Linked DNA regions of Homo sapiens: all the other regions are linked to region 3. Evidence: fine-mapped expression QTL. A gene starts in region 3. Each other region holds a variant in brackets. All regions are shown on one strand. Distances are from middle to middle.

Region 1 (4,243 bases), 35 kb after region 3:
GATTCAGGAGATCGTTATGAATATGGGTTATTTGTTACTATAATCTGAAAAGCTGCAAACCTCGGAGCCTATGAAGTTTGCAAGTTTTTGTGGGAGTTTTGTGCCCCTCCACTAAATGACCCCAGACTTCAATGCACAAAGTCCAGACTCTTTGTTTACTTATCTCTTTCCTCCAAGTCAGCCATCTTCTCTAGCAGGGCAGTTTTGCCTTGCCCCAGAAACAGCCTCTTCCTCCTCCTCATGTGTTAGCTGTGAAGTCATGTGATTTAGAAAAACAGATGACCAAACCTGTTAGATTTGGGTCTGGCTAGGGTGTACCATGAAGAAGCACGTCACTTTTATACGCTGCATTTGTGTTTTACATGTTGTGAATCTTTCCAAGTGGGAGGCCACAGGGGATCCTAGTTGTATTCCTTACACCCAGCCAGCACCTGGCACACAACGTGGCAGGATAAGATGCCCCAGGAATGCATGGATCAACTTGGATATATCTACTTTGTCTATCCAAATGCCTTTTTCCTTCCTTCATGGGTCTCATCACTTGTGGATGCCAGATAACTGAGTGTCAGAGTGAATAAGAACTTGCATTCTTAGGGCATGTTTATTACCCAAGCATTTTCAAATCGATGACCTCACCTGGATTCTAACACCAACCCTCAGCAGTATGCAGAAAAAGCGCAATCAGCCTCAATTTATAGATGGGTTGGCAGATTGGAAGAAGCTAATTGCCTCAGGCCACAGTGAGAGGCAGCCTCTGCAGTGTCGAGAGGTCCTGATTTCAAGGTCAGTGCCCCACTCCCATCACACGTGGCCGGGGGCTATCTGCAGAATGGGTGGTGACAGCCGGGACAGCAGGGGCTTATAATTACTCTGGAAATGTGGGATCCCAAGGGCAAGCTGAGGTGGCCGAGCCAGAGTCAAGATGTAGGGGACCAGTTAACCCTACAAGGAGTAACCTTGTAGGTGAGGCCTGTGTGAAAATGTCTACAAATGGGTGTGGGGGACAATAAGGCTTGGGAGTCAGGGCCCTGAGTACTGGTCTTGGCTTGGCCACTAGCATGCTCTTGGGCATAGCAGTTCCCCTCTCTGAGCCTGTTTTCTTGGTGATGAGAAGAGAGCACTGGCCTCACCCAGCTTCCTCACAACGTCAGAGGCAAGCAAGGCAGTTGCAAAGTCCCAGAGAGAGCGCAGGACACCATGGAATCAAGTCTGCAAGTGCGATGCCCCTTTCTGTTCTCTTTCATCCCTCCTTCTAGGAGCCCAGGGCTTTGGGACATTGGTGAGCAGCAGGATCTAGAAAACATTTAATAGCCTTATTCTCACTGAATTTGTTTTGACTTTTCCTTTCTATTTATGGCAAATGCTGATTTTTCATTTCTAGCAGGAATATCAAGACTCCTTTTAAAACAAATGAATTCAAGTAAACATAGTGAATTATTAAAAGAAAAAATTTAAGTAAATAACATTAGAGGTGGAACTACAGATATTGCAGAGATTATGAAGGTGGTTTAGAAGAGAGTGGCCTTGGAGAAACGCTGAGTGAGATGACCGCAAGGGTCCTTCTGCTCTGCAGAGTGTTGGAGAGTGGAGGTTATCAGCATGGACTCTAGATCCACATGTTGGGTTCTTTCACTTACATAGCTGGATACACGTGGGCAGGTTTCTTAATCTCTCTGTGCCTCAGTTTCCTTACCTGTAAAATGGGAATAGTAGCACACCTTCCTCAAAAGATTGCTGTGTGTTGCCCTAAGAAGAGCGCCTGGCTCAGAGAAAATGCTGTGGGAGTGTTATCTGTTATGATGACCTTCAAAGAGTCCTTAATCAGACCCAAGCCGAGGGCTTTTGGAAGAGAGTGGCGACTGGGGGGCAGTAACCATGTCTACACTCATTGGCTTACCAGAACCCGCGTGCTTGTACACACTGTTTTCTGTCCCTGAACACATAATCCCAGTGTTTCCTGCTTCTTCCTGTTGGAAAGTAAGTGAAG[C/G]CTTCCATAAATAATGGGGGAGGAGGAGAGAGGCCATCTGGCCCCAACCTCTATCCACACAGAATGAGAAAAAGTTGCCCAGGTGTTACCTGTCTTCTCATCATTTATCTGAGATCCTGCAAGAGTCAGCTGTGAGCCACATGTGCAATCATCTCCTGAGCCAAAAGGAGAGAAAGCAAAGCAGGGTTCTGAAGCCAGACCAGCCCAAATGGCAGCTCTCCCACTCACTGTCCTCTCCAGGCCCTTCCCTCCACACTTGCTCCCTGCTCTGAGTCACACTTTGTATTTCTTTGTGACAAGCCCATTTGGTTTTCTCCTCAAAGGTTGGTAATGCAGCATCTTCTGAGACACCAAAACCTGAGCAAGGTCCCAGGAAGAGGTGGCCTGACCTTGTAGGTGACCTCGTGCAGGACTTCAAGTGTGTGTGTGTGTGTGTGTGTGTGTGTGTATGTGTGTATGAATTTACAACTGGTCTACCCCAGCCCAGCTCTCCATCTGCCTGCACTCCCTGGAGCAGACAGCAGATAACCATTTAATAGATTGGCTTGAAAAGTTTATTTAAAGGGAAAATGTAATTGCATTCTATTCCAGGGAGGTGTGAAGATGTTCCAGCGGCCTGGTCATGGCATATGCACACTGTCAGAAGTCATCCTGAGGATGTTACTGCACATTGATGGGAGCCAGGGAGCCAGCTGTCATTAGAGGGATGTACAACAAGCGTCATTATGTAGATCATAATCTTACTGGACTCTTACATGTGCTATTCACAGTTGCAAACAAGACCTTGGCTCTCTTCTATCCTTGATATTTCCTTTCCCACCCCCACAAAACAATTGCAAACCAAGCCATGGTGGCAGAGTTTAATATGGCCAAAAGGCAGGATATACAGGGCTTACAAGTGTGGCTTCCAAAGTCAGTCTACCTAAGTTTCAGTCCTGGGTTTTCTATATACTAAGTAAATAATGTTAGGAAACTTACTTAAACTCTTGGTACCTCAGTTTCCTCATATATAAAATGAGGATAGTAATACCTACCTCACAGGGTTGTTGGAAAGATTGAATAAATTAACACATGTAAGCACTTTCAACAGGCACATAGCAAATACAGGATATGTGTTAGCAACTATTGTTTACTCAAAAAATTCTTACACTAGGCAAGTATCTCATACCCTAAGTTTACTAGGCCATTCTTGCATTGCTATAAAGAAAAACCTGAGACTGAGTAATTTATAAAGAAAAGAGGTTTATTGGGGCTCACATTCTGCAGTCTGTACGGGAAGCGTGGTGCTAACATCTGCTTGGCTTCTGGGGAGGCCTCAGGAAGCTTACAATCATGGTGAAAGGTGAAGGGGGAGCAGGCACATCACATGATGGAAGCAGAGCAAGAGAAAGAGAGAGGAGGTGCCACACACTTTTAAATGACTAGATCTCATAAGAACTCACTATCACAAAGACAGCACCAAGCTATGAGGGATTCACCCCCATGATCCAGATACCTCCCACCAGGCCCCATGTCCAGCACTGGGGATTACAATTCAACAAGAGTTTTAACCAGGGACAAATATCCAAACTGTATCACTTAGTAGCCAGCCTCCAATATGGCCCCCAGTGTTTCTCATCTCCTGTCATTCCTGCGCTTGCATAGTTCCTTCCACACTGAATAGGGCTACTATGCAACCAATAGCACATTGAGGAAATGATGGGGTGTGACTTCTGAGGGTAGGTTGCAAAGTCACTGCAGCTTCCACCTTGTGCTCTCTGGGATCACTTACTTTGGTTCACTTGCCAGCTGCCATGCTGTGAGGAGACTCAAGCAGCACTGTGGAGTGGCCCATGTAGGGAGGAACCGAAACTGCCTACAAATAACCAGAGTTAATTTACTATCCATGTGGCTAAGCCACCTTGAAAGTGGATCCTCCAGCCCCAGTCAAGCCTTCAGATGGCTGCAGCCCCAGTCAACATTTTGATTGCAACCTGATGACAGACCCTGAGCCAGAACCATCAAGGTAATAGCAATAGATACATTGGGCTTTGCACATTTAGAGGTGGAGGAGCAGGGCCAGAATCAGCAGGGGTGGCTTTATAAACCAGACACTCATGTGTTCACTGCCACCCACAGGTATGCAGAGAGATGCCCAAGTGTGCATCCCAGTGGGGTTCTGAGGTGTCCCAGTGGGCTGTGGGAGACAGAAAGAAATTCAAGGAAAATCCACGCCAGAGGCTTTCTGTAGTTTTGCACCTCACCCTTCCCATACCT
Region 2 (4,243 bases), 43 kb after region 3:
CATGACGTTACAGGGTAATCTGTGCTCATGCAGGGTAATCTGCTATTGGTTAGATATAAGATTGGATAAGGGGTTGAATAATTGCAAAAATATCAGTTAATTCATCAACAAATACCTACCAAAAGCACCTGCAGGTTGGGAGGCCCTAAGCCAAATGCTGCAGGCAGGGAAGGGCTAACCTGCAAGGAGGCTGCAGTACCGGAGGAGACACATGCAAATAGCTCTAAGCCTAGTGCTCATTTCTAGCTATAGAATAGACTCTGGAAGACTATGATTAACTTTTATTTTTCTACTTCTCTCTGCCTCGTGCTCCACCATATGTACACAGTAAGTCCTCGCTTCACATTGTCAATAGGTTGTTGGAAACTGCAACTTTAAGGAAAACTATATAGAGTAGATCTTCAAATAACATTGTTTCTTGTTTTTATTGTAATGTTGGTGAGAAAAAAATGGTTTTGTTATATGTTGTTTCACTTGAAGTTTTCATTTTCAAGAATCTATTGATGATGTTAAATGAGTATTTACTGTAATTACACACACACACTGTACCCACCACACACACTGCACCCACCACACACACACTGCACACACACACCACACACACTGCACACACTGCACACACACACCACACACACTGAACACACACACCACACACCACACACACCACACACACCACACACCACACACACTGAACACACACACCACACACCACACACACCACACACACCACACACCACACACACCACACACCAAACACACACCACACACTACACACCACACACACTACACACACCATGCACACACACACCGTACACCACACACACAACCACCCCCCCCACACACCACATATCACACACACCACACACCACACACACTGTATACCACACACCACACCACACATACACCACACACCATACACACTGTACACCACACATACACACACACACCACATACACCACACACCACACCACACACACAGCAGACACACTGTACACCACACACACCCCAAACACACCACACACACACACCACACACCGCGCACACCACACCACACCACACACACACACGCACACACACACACGGAGCAAGATTGTCATTGAAGAGTCTAGCATCCAGTTCAGGGTTCTTGACCTAGAGTTTTGGGAATAACTCCCCAAACTCCAAGGCTTTCTGGTCTTCCTTAAATTGTATATAAGTTTTTGTGCATTTTATTTTTAAAGAGAGACTATACATTTTTTTTTCAGATTCTTAAAGGAATCCCTGATTCCCAAATGCTTGACCATATGCAGTGGGTGACTTGGGACCCACGTCCTTGATCCGTGGTACCAGAACAGCTAGGGACTGTTTTAACCCCAATGTGACAGGCAACAAAACTCACATAAATCATACAAGGGGGGCGACAGGAGGAAAACCCTTTCTTTGACAGTAATTTCTGACCACCAATCAAAGTTTGCTTGTCTTACATCAAATCTTGGGTATTCAAACTCGAATTTGCAGACCTCTAGTCGGCTTCAGTCATCAGGGTTGAAAATTTCTGCAATATGGTGGAGAAAGCATGACCTTGGAATCTGAAGAGTCTGCGGTCTGATCCTAGCACCCC[A/C]GCCCCCAACCATGTGCTATTCTGTAACTTAACCTCTGTTGCTCCCCTTCTCCCTGACATCTCAGCCTCTCAGCTCACCTGTCTATAAAACAGGATAAAAATACCTACCTCACAGACTTATTGCAAACACTAAAGCAATTAGATACTTTAAACGTCTAGGCCGGTCACGGTGGCTCATGCCTGTAATCTTAGCACTTTGGGAGGCTGAGGCGGGTAGATCACCTGAGGTCAGGAGTTCAAGACCACCCTGGCCAACACCATGAAACCCCGTCTCTACTAAAAATACAAAATTAGCTGGGCATGGTGGCACATGCCTGTAATCCCAGCTACTTGGGAGGCTGAGGCAGGAGAATCGCCTCAACCAGGAGGCGGAAGTTGCAGTGAGTCGAGATCCTGCCATTGCATTCCAGCCTGGGCGACAGAGTGAGACTCTGTTTCAAAAAAGAAAAAAAGAATGTCTAGAACAGCACTTGGTAGGTGCTTAGACTGCCTTGCACATAGTAGGTATTCAGCAGATATTTGTTCCGGTTTCTCTATCCCCACCCAGTCCCCTTTGTTTTTTCATATATGTGGCACCTAGAGAGAATACTTTGTAATTCATTCCCAAGGTTGTTTTCCTTCCCTTGTTTTTTCTGAAAAAAACAAAAAACAAAAAAACAAAAAAAAACCCACCTCAGGATTGATAAAAGCAAAGAGTTGCTCAATGGCAAATCTGTCACGTACCTCTTTATTTCTCTGGCTTTTGGATAAAGCAAGAAGAGGCAACTACAGAAAAAAATGCAGAATAAAACTGCCCTGGTGTTTCATGCAGGGAAAAAAACCGCCCTGGTGTTTCATGAGTTGTCGTTGTGTGAGGTTTGGCTAATTCAGCAAGACCCCTTTGTTTTTGTTTTTAAACTATCGTATTAAAGCATATTTATTCAAAGGAGCGCAATCGCACTCAGAGACCCAATTAGCTTGGGAGGTTTATTCAATTTTGTGGCTCAACCATCTTACAAGTTTCTCTTTTGGAAGTGGCTTTGAAGCCAGCCTGTGAGTTAAGCACTACCATTAACAGTCACACTTCAAACTCACCTGTGTGCGGACTTGGATGGTGTAGTAATCCCTTCAGTGACACTTTGGACACACATTTACAGAGCACTGCCTTGGCACCCTGCCTCCAACCAGGTGCTGGAGACACAGCCATGAACAAAACAGAGGTGCAGTCCTGCCTTCATGGAGCTTGCAGCCCAGTGGAGGAGACATAGTGCAAGGACTCACAGCAGAACATGCTAAGCTTTGTGATAGAGGAGGTACAGGCCCACGTGGTGCATAGGAGAGGGGCACCCTGTCAGGATAGAGAGAGTCAGGGAAGGCTTCCTGGGGGAAGGGACATCTAATGTGAGGCCTAAAGGTTGAGTTGGAGTTAGCTAAATCCTGTGATTCCTGGACCTCTCATTAAGAAGGAGAGTAAAGAGATGCTCAGCAGGCAATGGGATAGCAGGGTCTGAGCTCAGAAGAGTGAGATCTGGGCTGAAGGCAGTGAGTTGGGCATTGTATTAGTCCATTTTCACATTGCTATAAAAAGCTTCCCAAAACTGGGTAATTTATAAAGGAAAGAGGTTTGACTCACAGTTCTGCATGGCTGGGGAGGCCTCAGGAAACCTACAATCATGGCAGAAGGCAAAGGGGGAGCGAGAACCTTCTTCGCATGGCAGTAGGAGAGGGAAGACTGAGTGTAGGAGGAACTTGCCACATACTTGTAAAACCATCAGATCTCATCAGAACTCACTTACTATCATGAGAACAGCACGGAGGAAACTGCCCCCATGATCCAATCACCTCTCACCAGGATCCTCCCTCAATACCTGGAGATTGTAATTCAAGATGAGATTTGGGTGGGGACACAAAGCCAAACCATATCAGACATCCAAGCACAGAATAGGTAAACTAGGAAAACCTCTCTGGGAAGGAAGCCTTTCCCAAGAGAGACTCACACCCTGGATCTCCCTAACCCACAGGGGCAGCCCTTACGGTCTGGAGGCTGGGGCTGCTCTCTCCAAGGCTGGTGGGCAGACTCTTGACCCAGAAAGCTGCTGTTGTCCCTCAACTGCCTTCCCCCCCATCCAGAGGGGATCTGGTTCTCCCAACCCATTCCATGTAGTGTCCCAGGAAGTGCATCCAAGAGCTTTGAGGCCAGAGGACAGAGCCATTCTAAGTGGCCCACAGCCTTGGCATCGGCCCAGGGAGCCCCAGTGAGAATCAGGGTCACCTGCAGACACCTGCACAGTCATCTTTGCACCATGCTGTACTTTCTGGGGTTTCAGGTCCATGACATGATGCTATCTTCTGGGTCACAGGCAAGCAAACACCATGAAGTCAGAGGTACACACAGCTCTCGGGCCTAAGTGGAGGGAAGTACATGCCCTCGCTGTAACAACACGCACTGAGCAGAGTCAGCTCTGACCAGGTTCTAGAAACCTTTGCAATCTTGAGATCCTATTCCTACTCTTTAACAGGAAGCATGCTTGTAAAGAGCTTTTGTCTTGGGGGGAAAGAGGAACAGCCCTCCACACGCCTCCCGACATTCCAAGGTTGGAGAATTAGCCTCCCACAGCTGCTGTCGCAGGAAGCGGGTCGGCCATATCCATGTGTAAACAAAGG
Region 3 (4,243 bases):
TGAAGATCTGAATCCTGAACCGTGACTCACGGGAGCCTGGCTGATCTCCTTCGCTTTCACAGGACTTCTCGCTGCTATGACACATTTGCATGGTGACTCCTGGTTCTTTTCCAGGCGTCAATGTGAATGTCCATTTTCTTTTGGAGTGGCTGTCTCTTTAAACTCTTACAATACACACGGGTTTTCTTTTCTGGCTTTTCTTGTAAGGTGCTGCCTATCAAAAAAGAGACAGGAGAGAGAGAGAGAGAGAGAGAGAGAGAGAGAGAGATTGTCTTCCAAAGGTTGTTTTCTTACCCTCTGTTGCTTAAACAATCATCTTCTGTGTTATTGAGGAAAACCCAAAGCTGTCAGCTTCCCTGGACTTCAGGTTTCCAGCAAACTCACCTCCCCCCTCCCTTGGTTTCACCCCCATCTGCTTATAATTTAATGTTCTGTATGTTTTAATCATTTCATTAGGCATGTCCTTATTTTGAAATGCAACTAATTCTTCAGTTCAAACAAACAGCCAGTAATTCTAAAAATGAGACCATTCTTTTCTTTCAGTTAGAGATTGGCTTAGAAGAAATATCACACCTATTTTGAGAAGGGTGAAATAACTCAAATGCCACTAGTTTTTTTAAAACCGCTGACTTTTAAAAGTGGAAATGATCTTAGAGATTGCTTCATTTTCTCCACAGATATGGAACTAACTTTTGGGGATGTTTTCTCATGTCTTTCTGAACACTTTGTGATAAAGTCATTCCTATTAAGGTTTGTCTTAATACGGATTTGTAAAAATTATGTAATAAAATACCTCATTTCTATACTCGGTGACAATGGACATGAAAGAAAAAGTGATTCCACTATAGGACTTGTATGTTTTATTAATTTATTTTCTTTATAGGAATTTACATTCTTTAAGGCAAGGAGAATCATATTTTGCTATAAGGGGAAAGATAATTTGCAAGGTGTTTCATGTGATTTTTCCCCCTGACATTCAGATTTATTCTATATCAAGAAAAGAAGCTTCTGGGCCGGGTGCAGTGGCTCACGCCTGTAATCCCAGCACTTTGGGAGGCCAAGGTGGGCGGATCACCTGAGGTTAGGAGTTCAAGACCAGCCTGACCAACATGGAGAAACCCCGTCTCTATTAAAAACACAAAAATAGCCGGGCTTTGTGGCACATGCCTGTAATCACAGCTACTCAGGGGGCTGAGGCAGGAGAATCTCTTGAACCTGGGAGGCGGAGGTTGCAGTGAGCCAAGATCGTGCCATTGCACTCCAGCCTGGGCAAAAAGAGCGAAACTCTGTCTCAAAAAAAAAAAAAAGGAGAAGCTTCTGAAATTCCAGGAGCATACAACTTCCCCCCTTATCTATGGGGGATACATTCTTCCAAGACCCCAGTGGATGCCTGAAACTGCAATAGTACCAAACCCTACATATACTATGCATGAATTTCTTTTTTTCCTTACCATTCATGGGTAAGCTGGTCCAAGTGCAGTGGTGTTTACAACTAATTGATCACAATTCGTGGGTAGAAGTTTCCTTCTTACTGTAGATCTTAAAGATGTCAGCATACAATTTTTTTCTTTCCTTATTAAGCTGATAACTTTCACCTTTTCACTTCAAGGATGCATTTTATGGCTTCTTTTTTGGCATATGCAAATTGCCAGCATCATTACTCTCATGCTTTGAGGCCATTATATAACAAAATGAGGGTTACTTGAACACAAGCACTGGGAAACGGTGACAGTCTATGTGATAACTGAGATGGCTACCGTGTGACTGACAGGAAGGTAGCTTAGACAGTGTGGATATGCTGGACAAAGAGAAGATTCCCCTCCCAGGTGGGACAGAGGATGAGAGATTTCAGCATGCAACTGAGAATGGCATGCAATTTAAAACTTATGAATTATTTCTGAAATTTTCCATTTAATTTTTTGGGGCCACAACTGACCACAGGTAAATGAAACCACAGAAAACAAAACCTCAGCTAAGAAAGAGCTAATGTATTTAATTTTAACATTATATCAATGACCCAACTGTGCAACGTAAAATGTCTTTATTTTCTGATACTTGTATTACTTTCTGGTAATAAAACGTCCTTTCAGTATTTTAGAAGAACGAGTCACATTTCGCACATAGTAGTAGACACTTAATAGATGTTTGTTGAAACATTCGTAGATAAGTGGGTAGATACACACTGACATTTAACGATGTGCCTTAATTCAGCTTTAAGTGCTAATGTTTATTAACGGTGATGCGTAAATACAACAGCACACATTCTGATTTAGGCTCGTCCACTGAAAATGTCCCCCTACTTCCAAAACGTAAACCGGTACCATTTAAGGATCGAAATGAAAACAACGTAATAGTGAAGTTGTCTTGGAGGAATTGCTGGAGGACGCCTTTGATACCTTTATGGAGAATGAATGGGAAGCCTTTGCGTGTGGCTGACACAAATGGTTGTCACACGCCATCTAGTGGCCATCCGTGAAACTGTGCATATGCCGTGGGAAACGCTTTTGGAACAAGTTGGATTGCTCCGAATTTCAGTGCCTATCGGGCAGCCAGTGAACATTTGTCCATCTTTAAGGCATTAAACTGAGAAGAACCACTGAGGAAAGCATGCCACAGTCTTTCCCAAAATCCCTGTGTCTTAAGGAACAACCAAGAAGTTAACTGGTCAGGGAAAAGATTTCTTTTGGAACACAGGTAAGCAAAACCAAGACGCCATCGGAGACACCCTTGCCTGCAACGGTTGTGGTATAAAGCAAGGTAAGTAGCGTGATATTCACTGCTTTTTGTCCCACAGAAGCCATCGCTGTGTGCGGAAATCCATGACCTGGCCATGACTTCTACAACCCGGAGGACTTGCCTGGCATTACCGAAAAGCACAGGGGAAAGATTCTGTGGCAGGTGCCGCATTTCATCCAGCTCACTCCGTGCTAGTTCCTAAGACATCTTAATTCTTACACATATGCATAATCGTGATATTTTGCCATGAATAACAATATATTTCACAATTATCAACCATTTTAATTTTTAGCTTTCTAACCTCGGACTACTATAATAAAAAGAAATAATAAATCCAAAAGTAGTAGTGGAAAAAATAAGTATCTCCAGGTTTGTTCCTGTAAAGTTAATTAGTTCAAAACAGAGTGAGGACTCTAAGAGTTTGGGGTTTTTTTGTGTGTGTGTGTTAAGTATCAGCATTAAGTATCTTCAAGACAATTCAAAGTAAGATGATAAGTCACTAGGTTGTAAATTTCACAAAAAATCATTAAATACACTGTGTCGGACTACAGCGGAACAGTGGGAAGAACATTCAGTATTTGAGAGTAAACAACTCAAATTAAGTTGTTTAGGAATCTCACAGACAGGAAAATTTTTCCTCTCTGGTTTTCCATGGTAGCATGTTTACAGTACTTGAAAAATGTTGCTTTCAAGTCATGTTAACTGCTTCTTAAGACCATCAAATAAGAAATGATATAGCTTATTAGTTCCAAAATAGAAAATCCTATAACATCATTTCCTCTTCATGTTAAGGTTAACTTCCATTATAAATATATGCTTTCAGTATAAAATGCTCGACCTCAAAAGATACCAGCTTTTGCGTTTTGAACTATAATCGTGATCCATAAATGGTGATAGAGCTTCAGCTACATCTCAAACATTTATGTTCCACTCTCTTTATCAAAGAGCGATTTATTTTCAGAGAAACATTTATCAATTTAAGGTGTCTGAAATATTCATTTTTTAAAAAGGGCTATAAACAAGTAGCAAGATGAATAATCTGGTTTTCTGTGGGTTAAGTTACATATCAAAAAATCCTAAAATTTTTCATCATTTTGATGCACTATTCTTAATTTTTAAAAACTCATTGTCTGAAAGCAAGACAGATATTTTAATGCTAATATGTAAAAATAAACCGGATTTACGGTCTTGGGTCTCTGTCGTTGCCTATATATCTAGATGTCTACAAAAATATTCCAGATTTTCTGCTTTTCTTAATCTCAAATGTTCAAAATGACTACATTTTCTAGAATATTTACCTATTAGCTGATGTTATTGTTAAAAAGAAAATCAGACTAATTTTGGCAGTATTGTGCCTTACTACAAATCCTGTCTTTACTGTGAGAGTGGAGAAAAATAAAATTTGCAGAATTCCAGTCTCTAGCCATTGGCATTTTCCGGGCTTTCTTGTTTTCTATATATTGAGTCCCCTGTGCGTATGGGAAGCTCAGCTGAGGACTAATGCAAA

Direction of the effects. Alleles are on the strand shown, and positions count from the first base shown. SD is a standard deviation of normalised expression in the study named.
For the expression in prefrontal cortex of the gene that starts at base 2,517 in region 3, allele G in region 1 goes with a higher level than allele C (moderate effect, 0.47 SD a copy in ROSMAP).
With allele A in place of C in region 2, the expression in hippocampus of the gene that starts at base 2,517 in region 3 is lower (moderate effect, 0.41 SD a copy in GTEx).

What was found. PIP is the estimated chance that this variant, and not a neighbour inherited with it, causes the effect. A credible set is the group of variants that fine-mapping cannot tell apart.
Region 1: its variant is the best candidate, but not a certain one, in a credible set for the expression of LINC02944 in prefrontal cortex (ROSMAP, PIP 0.76).
Region 2: its variant is the best candidate, but not a certain one, in a credible set for the expression of LINC02944 in hippocampus (GTEx, PIP 0.69).

Annotation. Positions count from the first base shown.
Region 1 is chr10:118,274,259-118,278,501 of GRCh38, forward strand. No RefSeq gene overlaps it. Among named protein-coding and RNA genes, the nearest start is that of LINC02944, 35 kb to the left of the region's middle. The variant C/G (reference allele first, on the strand shown) is at 1,988.
Region 2 is chr10:118,282,068-118,286,310 of GRCh38, forward strand. No RefSeq gene overlaps it. Among named protein-coding and RNA genes, the nearest start is that of LINC02944, 43 kb to the left of the region's middle. RefSeq lists enhancers at 3,332-3,833, 3,834-4,243. The variant A/C (reference allele first, on the strand shown) is at 1,601.
Region 3 is chr10:118,238,989-118,243,231 of GRCh38, forward strand. LINC02944 (long intergenic non-protein coding RNA 2944) reads left to right here and starts at 2,517. Exons shown (of 5, transcript XR_946349.3): 1 at 2,517-2,694; 2 at 2,795-2,898.